Linked DNA regions of Homo sapiens: region 2 is linked to region 1. The links come from fine-mapping of genetic effects on gene expression. Tissue or cell type: prefrontal cortex. Region 1 holds a variant in brackets; the other region holds the start of a gene. All regions are shown on one strand. Distances are from middle to middle.

Region 1 (6,022 bases):
GCGCTACGTGGTGAGAAACTTACCTCCTTTTGCAGGACAACATTTTCCAGTCCTTCTGAGTAAATCAAAGAGAAGTCTCAGCTTGGTGATTGCAGGTCTCTAATGCTTATTTCTCTGTCTCTGTCTCTCTCTCTTTTAACAAAAGTCTACCAGCGGCCTCAGGCTCAGGGCCTGTCTCAGGTAAAAGCGGGTTAGGGTGTAATAACAGTGATCGGTTTCATTGTGTTTATTTTTGTAGCTACTTTCTAATTATAGCAAGTGATTCTGAGTTTCCATTTAGGATAGTAATAGGAAGTTTCTTTTTCAAGTAAATGTGCATAAGTAAAAGGAGACTGCTCAAAGGAAAACAGCTGGTGATTGATAGAACAGGCTGTGGCATTGTTGGGCCCCAGAGGGAAGGGCTGTGTGAGCATGCAGGAAATTCTGGGAAGGCAGCTAAATGCAGTTGCTGCATGGGGGCCAGGAAGCATTTGGAGACGTGGCTGGGCACAGCTTGGCTTTTGAGCCCAAGAGAGGCCTGCTGGGGATGTGTTGGGAGCCAACCTACCCCTACCAGCAGGTGGAACTGGTTTTGCCACTCCAAAACAGAGTTCCAGCTATGGGGACAGCCACTAGAGAGCAGAGCTAAGGGCATTCTAGGCCAAGGGGTCACAGTCCACCCTGAACTGTGCCTCCCAGCCTGAAGCCAGAAAGCTCAGGGAGGCTAGCGGCCCTGCCCAGGCCTCAGCACTGACCCTGCACCCCTAGGCCCAGCTGGATGACCCCTAAGAGCTTCCTGGAATTTGGATGCAGGGTTATTCTGTGTGTGCTGCCTCTCAGAGCATGTCACTTTGACGTGGACATCTCGGGTCTGGTTCTGGTGCTGTCCCTGTCTCGCCACGTGACCCTGGATAAGTCATCTCTCCAGGCCTTGATTTCCCCATCTGTAAACAGAGGTGAGTGAAATGATCTTTAAAGGCGTGTCAGTCCATTTTGCATTGCTATAAAGGAATACCTGAGGTTGGGTAGCTTATAAAGAAAAGAGGGTTATTTGGCTCACAGTTGTGCAGGTTGTACAGAAGCATGGCACCAGCATTGCTTCTTGTGAAGCTTCAGGAAGCTTCCACTTATGGTGGAAGGGGAAGGGGGAGTTCGTGACTTACATGGCAAGAGAGGGAGCAAGAGCCATGTCAGGCTCTTCTAAACAACCAGCTCTCATGTAAACTAACAGAGTGAGAACTCATTCATTACCACGGGGAGGGCACCAAGCCATCCATGAGGGACCTGCCCCCATGAGCCAAACATCTCCCACCAGGCCACACCTTCAACACTGGGAGTCACATTCAGCATGAGATTTGGAGGTGACCACCATGCATCCAAACCATATCAAGGACCCATTTCGGTGAGGGGACCAGGAACATATCCCTTCCCCTCTCCTCCACATCCTTTAATGTGGAGTTCAGCAAGGAAAGTAGGGCTTGGGTCAAATTAAAGCCTGGTCTTAATTTCCTGGTCCAGTTATTAGCTGTGTAACCCTGGGCAAGTCACTTAACCCCCTCAGGTTACAATGTTACAAATGATCACATTTTCCTCAACTGAAAAATGGGATAGGAACATGTCCCAAGCAGAGCTGGAGTGACGGTGCTATCAATGGCCCGGCAGTGCCTGGTCACACAGTAGGCCTGGGGAGCCCTGACTTTTACCGCACAGGGAGCTGCTTGCAGAGCTTGTTTTCAATTGTGGGCTTGGCAGGGAACTGCCGGCATCCCAGGGGACAGGGTCTCATGAGGATGCCTAATCCCAGCTCAAAGTGGAGACCCCAGGACTCCATCACAGCCAGTGGGGGGGAGTGGCTGCTGCAGCAGGGAGGGCTTCATTGGAATGAACCCCTTTAAGCTCCAGTCCAAATGCCCAGAGTGGTTTTGCAGGTATGGTTGTGAGGCTGGCATGGTAGTCCCATCTGCAGTCCCCTGGGATGAGGCACCTGTATGGTAGAGGGCCCGGGTGGAGAGAAGAGAAGGATGGGGATGAACCCAGGACCACAGATGGCCCAGTTCCATGGATGATTTTCATTGAGGTGCCTTCAAGTCAGTTCAACACTGGGCTTCTCAACCTTTGAGGTATGCAGGTAAGAGTCACCTGCGGCAGTGGGGGATGCTCTTGTTAAAGTGCAGACTCCGATTAAGCAGGTCTAGGGTGGGGCCTGAAATTCTGTGTTCCTAACAAGGCTCCATCCTGGGTATGGAGGTCAGGTACCCCCTCACCTCTCCTGTGGACCCAGCTTTTGAGGGGTCAGGAGAAGAATGTTCAGTCCCAGCTGCCACCACTCTAAAGTCCCCTAGAAACAAGGACTAATACAGGTGGCGTGGGAGAGGGCCCAGGCAAACAGGGAGGTGGGGTACCCCGGTGGGGCTGCAGTGGGCCCTGCGGAAAGCTTGCTGGAGGTGGGGGCCTAAGGAATTCAAGGACTTGTTCCAGGAACCCAAGGAACGAGTGGGCTCTAACTGCTGCAGCATATGGGAGATGCCAGGAGGAGCTGGCTGTGGCAGGCCATCCCAGTCCATCAGACAACTTGTAGTGGATGAAGATGCAGTGTCCATGGCCAGAAGAAACTCCCGTGGATGCTCAGGCCAAGGCTGCCAGAAGCACGAGGAGGGGCAGCATTGAGTGTCATCGGGAAAAGGCAAAGTGATGGTCCTGAAGCTGCCCCATGTGGCCAGTCCCTTTTTGGGAAGCCTGAATAAATCCATTTCCTGTGCACTGTGTGGGAAGCCAACCCCTCTTCAGAGGTACTTATGGGGAACCCCCCATGTGATTCTATAGGCTCCTTTACTCCCATATAAGTATTTTCTCTCTGTGTGCACCCCCCGCCCCACCCCCCCAACACCCCACACATATCATCTATCTGTGATTTTGAGATGACTTTTTTTTTTCACATTTCAGCACCTCTGAACTCAACAGGATCCTACACTTCTTATAGGCCTGGCTTGATGCTGACATCCTTCAGCCCCAGGGAAGACCTAAAGATCTCCAGGTCTTGAGGCACCTGGAACACCTCCACCTGAGACCACTTTAACATGATTTCTCTGCTTGAGGGATTTTGGACCATGCTGTGTGTATTCAGCCCTAAAACATGGG[C/T]GAGTGCCCGCTTGCAGTTCAAATTCTCAGAGGAAGTTCCCTGTACTCCACCCAGTGCCAAGTTTAGTTTGTGCAAATTTCCTTAATGTCCCCTCCTGTACAACAGGCTTATTTGGTGTTAACCCTCATATCGGGGGTCTAACTCTTTGCTTTTCCAGCTTTTGTGCTGGAATATCCCATTAAACTGTCCATGTTGGGTATTTTTTCTTTGTTAGTAAACATTTGTTGCATATTGTTGATAGCATTTTAGATTTGAAGAAATAACTGACAAAATCAATATCATCTGTTTCATCATTACAAATAGACTCATAGCTCTTTAATTTTTCCATTTAACACTTTAATTTTCCATAGGCCTAGATTTTCAAGAAGTCCAATATCTCTCACTTGAAGTGTCTTTTCCCTGGAGTAGATTGGGAGATTTGAGGGATATCTGTCCAAAGATGAGACAGTCTGTTTCTAGTTTCCCATCCAGCCTGATGGGGCGTCTACAGTTTTTACCACAAGGTGTCGCTGTTGAACAGATTCTGGTGCAGTCTAGTGCATAGCTGTCCACTTCTAGAGTGATCACTTGCTGGGCCAAGTTCCTCTCCTTAAGTGGTGTCTCACATTAAGGTTCCCAAATTACAGACTCATTAATTCACCCTAATAAGCTCATCCAGGCAGTTTAGGTCTTCAGGGGCTTCCAGCCTCCAACACACATTGGGCCAAAACCAGCCTGTACCACCAGCTCCAAGCCCTGTGTTGAATCTAGGTCATTGGTCCAGATGCCCCTTCATTCTGGGCCTGTGGTGTCCTTTCCAGACAGCAGACCTCAGTTAAGGGCATCCCAGTCCATCAGAGAAGTTCCAGGATCACAGACCCTCAAAAGGGGCAGTGTTGAGGATTCAGTCTGTTTTCTGCCCAGAGGCCCCATTAAGTATGTTGTATCACCTCCTCCCCAGGCTGTTTCTACATAACCCAGGGAAGCCATTCAGGGAACAGCTGCCTTATGAATGAAAATCCACCCCTAGACAATGTGCTATGCCATCCCAGCCAGAAAAATTGTTGGCAACTTCCCTTGCCAAAAATGCCTGGTATCACAGAATCTTATGCCATTATTGCTTTCTGGTCCAGGGTCCTCCCACCCTTCAAAAGGATGGCATACAACTCCCACCGTGTGTGTGTGTGTGTGTGTGTGTGTGTGTGTGTGTGTGTGTGTAGAGGCTGTTCTTGAGGGCAATAGGTGAGCTTTTGTTTTGCTTTGTCAGGTCTACATGGTAAGGGGGAAGGGCTAGAATACTAAGATAGTATTAGGATAATGGATGGAAATATTTTAAAGCAATTCCAAGGTGGAAGGAACAGAGAGAAAAGCCTTGGAGCAGCTGGAGAGAACTGTCTTCAAGGAAATGGACTAAGTTTTGTCTAGAATGTGTGAGGTAAACTTCTTCTCCAGCTTCCCACAAAGACACTGGTGGGGTGGACACTGCTCTGGACGGTTTTGGCAGTTGGTTTTGTGTTTTGGAGATGAAGTGGCCCTGGCATCAAGAGGACGTGGGACACAAGCAGAGGCTTCCAAGGGGTCCCAGGAGCACCTCTGTCCAATACAGATGGAGAAATTGAGGACCAGAGGAGGGGCTTGTCCAAAGTCACCCAGCGAGTTAGAGCCCCCAGTGGCTTTTCCCATTAAAAATGAACCCCAGGCCAGGGGTGGTGGCTCACACTTGTAACCCCAGTGTTTTGGGAAGCTGAGGCAGGAAGATCATTTAAGGTCAGAAGTTAGAGACCAGCCTGGGCAACAGAGAGACCCTGTCTCTACTAAAAAATTAAAAATTAGCCTGGTGTGGTGGTGTGCACCTGTAATCCCAGCTACTTGGGAGGCTGAGGTGGGAGGATTGCTTGTGCCCAGGAGTTTGAGGCTGCAGTGAGACATAATTGAGCCACTGCACTTCAGTCTGGGTGACAGAGCAAGACTGTCTCAAATAACAAAAAAGAAAAGGAAAAATAAAAAAAAAGAACCCCAAACAGCCCACTGTGAGCCATGGTGACCCCAAATCTCCAGCGTCCCTGCGGGGTCCCAGGCCGGCTCAGTGCAGGTATTCTCGCACAGTGAGCTCCTTCAGGGTGATGCCTCGGGGCGTGGGCCTCCGGAGCTGGCTCTCCTCCAGCCTCTCCTGCAGAGTCACGAAGTCCTTGCCCAGCGCGTAGGCCAGGCGGACCATGGCGTCCAGCAGAGGCGCATAGTAGCGATGGCCCTCCCGGGCCTGCAGGCGCTGCAGGGCCCTCTCTCCGGCCGCGAAGGCCTCGGCGGGGCGGTCGAGGTCGCGGTGGCACAGCAGCACGGCGCACAGGGCCGGGACGGCGGCCGCAGGGCAGTGGGCGGTGAGCTTCTCCTGCAGCGGCAGCACGCGCAGCAGCAGCTCCAGGGCGCGCGGGTACTGGCCGGCCCGCAGGCAGCCGAAAGCCTCGCGCAGCTCCGGCCGCGTGAGGAAGTCCAGGAACTCCCGGGAGCGGCGCACGCAGCGGATGGCGTAGAGCAGGCCCAGGTACTCCTGCAGGGCGCGCCGACGCTCACAGATCATCTCCTCAGCGAAGTTCCCAGTCAGGTGCTTCCTGGGAAACTCCACGTCTTCGATCTCCTCCCTGAACGTCTTCAGCAGCGCTTTCTGGAGCTTCGCGAAGTCGGAATAGCGCCGTTCCAGGACGGCCTTGTTGTTGTCAAAGCTCCCAGTCTGGATGACGATGATTTGGTACACCTAGGGCGCAACCAGAGAGAGCTGTGGCCACCTCCCGGCGGGGGCTGCGGCGGACGGAGCACACCCAGAGTAAAGTTAACCAGGCCGGTGTAAAGCATGCCCTGAAAACGGGCGATCCTTATATGCAATTGTTTGTTTGTTTGTTTGTTTGTTTGTTTATTTATTTATTTATT
Region 2 (6,022 bases), 22 kb after region 1:
CCTGTAATGCAGTTTTGCCTGCTTTTGAACTTTATAGAAAGGATACCATTCCGTATGCACGCTCTTGCACTCAGCCTGTTTCACCCAACATTATGTCTGTGAGGCTGCAGTTCTCGTGGGGGTACAGTGATTCATTTATTTTCATTGGTTATTAGAACCACAGCATTATTTTTAGTATATTCACTCAACAAAGATTTATTGCATGCCAGGTCCTGTTCTAGGCCTTGGGAGAAGGCAAGGGACAAAGCAAAAATTCCCTGTTCCCTTGGAGCTCATGCTGTCTTGGGTGAGAGACCAACAACAAAGACAATAAATAAGTAGAATACATAATGTGTTGTGTGCAGATAAGCGCTATGGAGAAAAATACAAAATAAAGCAGGAGAGAAGGGATTGGAGGGTGTTGCAGCTGTACACCGAATAGTTAGGGAAGGCCTTGCCGAGAAAGTCATATGGAAGCAAAGACCCAAAGGAGAGGAAGGAGGGAGCCAGGTAGATTTCTAAAGAAAGAGCATTCCAGGCACAGCAAAGGCAAAGGCCTGAGTGTAACTGCAGGTTTGGCATATTTGAGGAACAGCCAGGAGGCCAGTGTAGCTGGAGCAGAGTGAGTAAGATGAGAGTGTAAGAGGTGGGCAGAGAGGGTGCCAGAGGCCAAACAGCAATTGTAAGGACCTTGGCTTTTACTTTGGGATGGGAGCCATCAACAGAAGAGTTTCAGCAGAGGAGTGATAGAATTTGACTTAAAACAGCAACAACGACAACAACAGCAAAACCAACAGACTCACTCTGGCTGCTGGATTGAAGAAGGGCTGTAGATGGAGGCGTGGAGAATGGCCAGGAACTCCTGCTATCACCCAGGTGAGAGATGATGGAGATGTGGACCCAGGTGGTAATGGTGCATATGGCAAAAATGGGCTGCAGCTTGGAAATATTTGAAGGCCAAGCTGAAAAATTTGCTCCCAGATTGGATAGTGGGGCTGAGAGAAGATGGGTCGGGTTAAGTGTTCTAGGTTCAGATGTTCTGTCAGTTTTCTTAATTAATTTTCTGTTACTGGGCATTAGGGAGGTTTCTAGCTTCTCACTGCTGTAGGCAAGATGGTGGTGAACATCCTTGTAGATGGTTCTGTGCGCTGCCCAGAATGAATTTTCTAGGGTAGATTCAGTCCTTCTAATGCAGCATTTTCCAACCTTGGCTGACTGTGCACCACCTGCACAGGTATTTACTTGAAAGCGGTATGGGGTAGTGGTTAGAGCATTCATCTGTGCCAGAGGCCTGGGGCAAATCCCCATCTCTGGTGCCAGAGGAAAGGGGGCATCTCGAGGCTGGGGAGGCCCCTGGCAGGAGTGAGAAGTCCTGAGGAGCCCGGGCTTCAGGTCTCAGAGGGGGCCACTGTTTTTTGAGTACCTTCCTCTCTGTGGGACTCAGTTTCCCCATCTTCACCATGCCAGTGAGTGGGTGGGTGTAAGTGAGCGAGTCTGCCTGGAGGATCCTACTGCTGCTCTCTGCACCTCTTAGGGGAATCTCCTGCCTCCTCCTTCTCCCTTGGTGGGCGTGAGATCAAAGTTCAAATGTGTACCTCAGTTTCTGCATCTATAAGTTAGAGGCAATAATAGTCAATACCCTAGAGGTGGAAGTAACTGAGTTACTGTCTGTAAAGACTAGCACATGGTAAACACTTTCTAGATGCCAGTTATTTTCGTTATTTTTAAAAATTGACTTCACATTTTTTAAAACAACCAAATATGAGTTTCAAAAGGAACATTTACATTAACATGTTAAATGGAAAACCGGTGTCATTTGCTCCGGAGAACAGAAGAATGTAAAATAAAATATATTTAATGGAAACAAAAACAATGCTATTAAAGCTAATTAGATAGTTTCAGAGCCAAGTAATCTAGGCAGTGCTAGAAAGGTACTCAAACCCTATTAGTACTAAACTGAGAAATAAACTCCATTCAACATAAACGGAAAAACTGAAAGGAAAATGAAAAAAAAGAACCTTAAATGACCAGTCCACTCTTACCTAACATGTAACCTGTCACACTCTGGAAAAGTTTTCCTAGTTTTGGCTGTGTGTGCGTGTGTGTGTGTGTGTGTGTTGGGAAGTGAGGCGTGTGTTGGGAAGCGATGTGTGTGTTGGGAAGCGATGTGTGTGTGTTGGGAAGTGGGGTGTGTGTATATTGGGAAGCATGTTTGTGTGTGTTGGGAAGCGGTGTGTGTGTTGGGAAGTGGTGTGTGTGGGGTGTGGTGTGTGTGTGTTGGGAAGTGGTGTGTGTGTGGGGTGTGTGTATGTGCACGTGTGTGTTGGGAAGCAGTGTGTGTGGGGTGTGTGTGTGTTGGGAAAGCAGGGAGTGTAGTGTGTGTTTGTGTTGGAAAGTGGTGTGTGTGTGGGGTGTGTGTGTGTGTGCACGTGTGTGTTGGGAAGCGGTGTGTGTGGGGTGTATGTGTTGGGAAAGCAGGGTGTGTGTGTGTTGGGAAGTGGTGTGTGTGTGAGTGTTGGGAAGCAGGGTGTGTGTGTTGGAAGTAGGGGGTGTATGTGTATCGGGAAGCATGTTTGTGGTGGGGGGAAGCAGGGCGTGTGTGTGTGTGTATGTGAGTGTTGGGAAGCAAGGTATGTGTGTTGGGGGAAGCGAGGGCTGTGTGTGTATTGGGAAGCATGTTTGTGTGTGGGGGGAAGCGAGGGCTGTGTGTGTGTATTGGGAAACATGTTTGCGTGTGGGGGGGAAGCAGGGCGTGTGTGTGTGTTGCGAAGCGGTGTGTGTGTGGTGTGTGTGTGTGCGCGTGTGTGCTGGGAAGCGGTGTGTGTGGTGTGTGGTGTGTGTGTGTGTGTATGTGTATGTGTTGGGAAGCGGGTTGTTCCGAGGACTCCCCGATTCCCTCCTGGTTGAAACGTGGCCCAGAAAGAGAGGCACACTGGCTAGGGCACACAGCCAGGGCCGTCCAGCCCCGCAGGAAGCCCCGGTCCTGCCCTGTCCCAGGTAAGCCTGGCCAGCCCTGGAGCCGGCGCTGCGGGGCTGCGGGGCTGCGGGGCTGCGGGGCCACGGGACAGGAGCGGGTGCTGCGGTCCCGGCAGAGCAGGGGCGGGGTCCGGGCGGGGGCGGAGCCGAGCGCCCGCGCACCCGGAGCCGCAGCCCGAGCCGGAGCCGGAGCCGGGAGTCGTGGCCCGGAGTGGGCCTTGGAGTCGGCGCGCAGGCGGCTCGCGGTGAGTGCTGTGCCCAGCGCCTGGGGGTGGGCTGGGGGGAGACTGTGGGCGCCGAGGGTCCCACCCCCGGGACTTGAACACTTGGCTTCTGAGCCGTCCTGGCCGCAGGGCTTGGGCAAGGGTTGCCTCGGTTTCTCCTGGGGGAGTCCCAGAATGTAGATGGGAAGTGAGACGGAAAGGGGGCATCTCGAGGTTGGGGAGGCCCCTGGGCCACTCTTTTGATTTCCTTCCTCTCTGTGGGACTCAGTTTCCCCAGCTTCACCATGCCAGTGAGTGGGTGGGTATAAGTGAGAGAGTCTGCCTGGAGGATCCTGCTGCTGCTCTCTGTACCTCTTATGGGAATCTCCTGCCTCCTCCTTCTCCCTTGTTGGGTGTGAGATCTAAGTTCAAATCCATCCCTTCCCAGACAGCCCACACCAGGACCTGCGAGGCCACATCCCCCAGCTGTTTGCTCTCCTATGCTTCTCAGGTTGATGGAGCAGCCATCTGGTCCTGCTTTCATTCCAACAAACTGAAAAGCCCTCCACCCCAATCCCCCTGGGGAGGACCTCCTGAAGCTGCATGAGGGCTGGGGGCTGGACCCCTGCTTCTGAGTTTGCTCTTTCTGAGCCTCTCCTGCCATGGCCTTGGTTTCCCCATGGGCTGTGACCTAGCCTCCTCCAGGGTCCTTGTTCTACAGAGGGGAAACACCTGCCCTGTCACCCTCCCCTGACCCCTTAGTGAAAAAGACCAGAGTGACATCCCCACCACCTGTACTTGCCTGTCCCGATCACTCAGCCATGGGGCTGCTGGGGCCCCTGAGTTTGTTGGCTGCTCAAGGCCCCTTTGCCTCGCTGCACCCTGGGATCTGAGGCTGGAAGCATCCTCATCCAGCCCACCTCCCTCCTACCCAGTGCAGAGCCCCTCTGTGACACATGCCCAGTGGTGGGGAGCTTATTACTGATGAGGTGGCTTTTTAGTGCCTTGCAGCTCTTGTTTCCTTTAGCTAAAATCTGTGGCTTACAGATTCTACACCTTGGTTCCATGTCTGTCTCCCGGAGCCATGCAGAGCAAGTCAGTTCTTTCATTCTTTCCAGCAGTCATCATTCATGCACTGGATGAGACACGAGACAGAGCAGTAGGAAAATCAGACAAAACCCCCTGCCCTCATGGAGTGCACACTCTAGAAAGGAATGGACAGCAATGAAATAAGTAAATACATGGCGTAGCAGGTGGCGGGAAGTACTACGAGTAAAACAAAGCTGGGAAGCAGGATGGGGTGCTGGGGCTGGGTATTGCATTGTATATAGCACAACCAGGGAAGGCTTCCCCAAGACCACGATAGCTGGGCAAAGTCATAAGGAATTGAGGGGTGAGCCACATGAGTATCTGGGGGGCTGGGAGGCTTTGGTTTTCACTCTGAGCATGATGGGAGCACGGGTTTGGAACAGAGGAGTCACCTGCTTTGACTTGGGGTCTGGCAGGCCCATCTAGCTGTGGGGTGGAGAATGGATCATGGGGGGGGTGGGGTAAGGGCAGAAGGAGAGCCCGTTGAGCGGATCATTGCTGTCATTCTCGGGAGAGACCATGGTGTCTTGCCCATGGCCCAGAGGTGGTTAAAAAAAAGAAAACCAGACATTCAGATTTGGGATATATTTCAAAGGCCGTGTCGATAGGGTTTGGGGTGCAAGAGAAAGGTAGAGTCAAAGATGATTCTGAGTGTTTGGCTCGAGCTTCTGGAGGTTTGAAGCTGCCATGAACTGAAATGGGAGTTGCTTAGCGGAGAGATCAAGAGTTTGGTTTTGTGCTTGTGGAGTTTGAGCTGCCCATTAGGCATCAATGATGAGTAAGCAGTTGGGAAAAGTTAAGGGCGGAGGTTGGAGTTGAAAATAAAACTTTGGGCATCATCACCATATAACTGGTATTTAAAGCCACAAGAGCAGGTGGGCTCATCTAGGGATGGAGTGATATGGAGAAGAGAAGGGGTCTAACCATTGAGTGCTGGGGCCCCCAGTGTTAGGAACCAGCCAAGAAGACAGAAAGAGTGAAAATCAGAGAGTTGGGGTGTCCTGGAGGAAATGAAGAAAATGCCCCAAAGAGGAAGGAGGGAACAAATATGACCAATGCCCCTGGCAGAGCAAGCAGGCTGAGGGCTGAGGATTGAGCAATGGGAGGTCACTGGTGACAGTTTCACTGGAGCTGGATGGGGAACTAGAGGGAATGGGAGGGGATGGGAGGACTTGGGGACAGCAGTACAGGCAACAGACAAGGGGGCCTGCTGTAAAGGGAGCAGATAAATGGGATTGGAGCCAAATGAAGAAGGGGAGTGTCAAGAGAGTGCTTTACTTTTACAATGGAGAATTAGAGTGCATTGTGCACTGGTGGGGGGATTTGATCTCTTAGGGAGAGAACAGTGTTAGGGAGGGAGAATGCAGGATAGCTGGGGGAGGGTGGGGGGCTTGGCCCCAGCAGAGACTCAGGACACTTGGGAAGTTGAGCTTCCCTGGGCTTCCCCTCCTCTCCTGTCTGCAAGGGGTCAGTGGGCTGAGATTTCAGCACTTAAGCAAAGCATTTGCTCTTGGCCCCAGAGAAACCGGGCTGGCTGTGGTCTCAGGAAGGAAGGAGGTGTCCAGGCTCAGGCCTGGGCCTGGGTTTCAGGGAGGGCCCACGTGGGTCGCCCCTTGACCCTCTCTTTCAGCAAGGAAGTGATCCTTTCTCTACATGGGCCTCACCTTGGGGAGGACAATGGTGTCTTTGAAGTTGTAGTAACTGAAGTAGAGATCAAAAGGCAATGCAGATAGACTGACAGATTTCGCCTGAAGAGGGGAAGCCCGACCAGGTAA

Direction of the effects. Positions count from the first base shown, and alleles are read on the strand shown. Sizes are in standard deviations (SD) of each study's normalised expression.
With allele C in place of T in region 1, the expression in prefrontal cortex of the gene that starts at base 3,144 in region 2 is lower (moderate effect, 0.50 SD a copy in BrainSeq).

What was found. PIP is the estimated chance that this variant, and not a neighbour inherited with it, causes the effect.
Region 2: NOD2 starts here. The variant in region 1 is fine-mapped to the expression of NOD2 in prefrontal cortex (BrainSeq, PIP 0.95).

What each region holds. Positions count from the first base shown.
Region 1 is chr16:50,668,226-50,674,247 of GRCh38, forward strand. SNX20 (sorting nexin 20) reads right to left here. Exons shown (of 4, transcript NM_182854.4): 4 at 3,404-5,849. The coding sequence ends at 5,181. It overlaps LOC101927272 (a long non-coding RNA gene), which reads left to right and starts at 630. Exons shown (of 3, transcript NR_110908.1): 1 at 630-935; 2 at 2,458-2,768; 3 at 2,923-3,414. The variant C/T (reference allele first, on the strand shown) is at 3,118.
Region 2 is chr16:50,690,463-50,696,484 of GRCh38, forward strand. NOD2 (nucleotide binding oligomerization domain containing 2) reads left to right here and starts at 3,144. Exons shown (of 12, transcript NM_001370466.1): 1 at 3,144-3,200. RefSeq lists a silencer at 2,864-3,373 and enhancers at 3,744-3,793, 4,034-4,113, 6,018-6,022.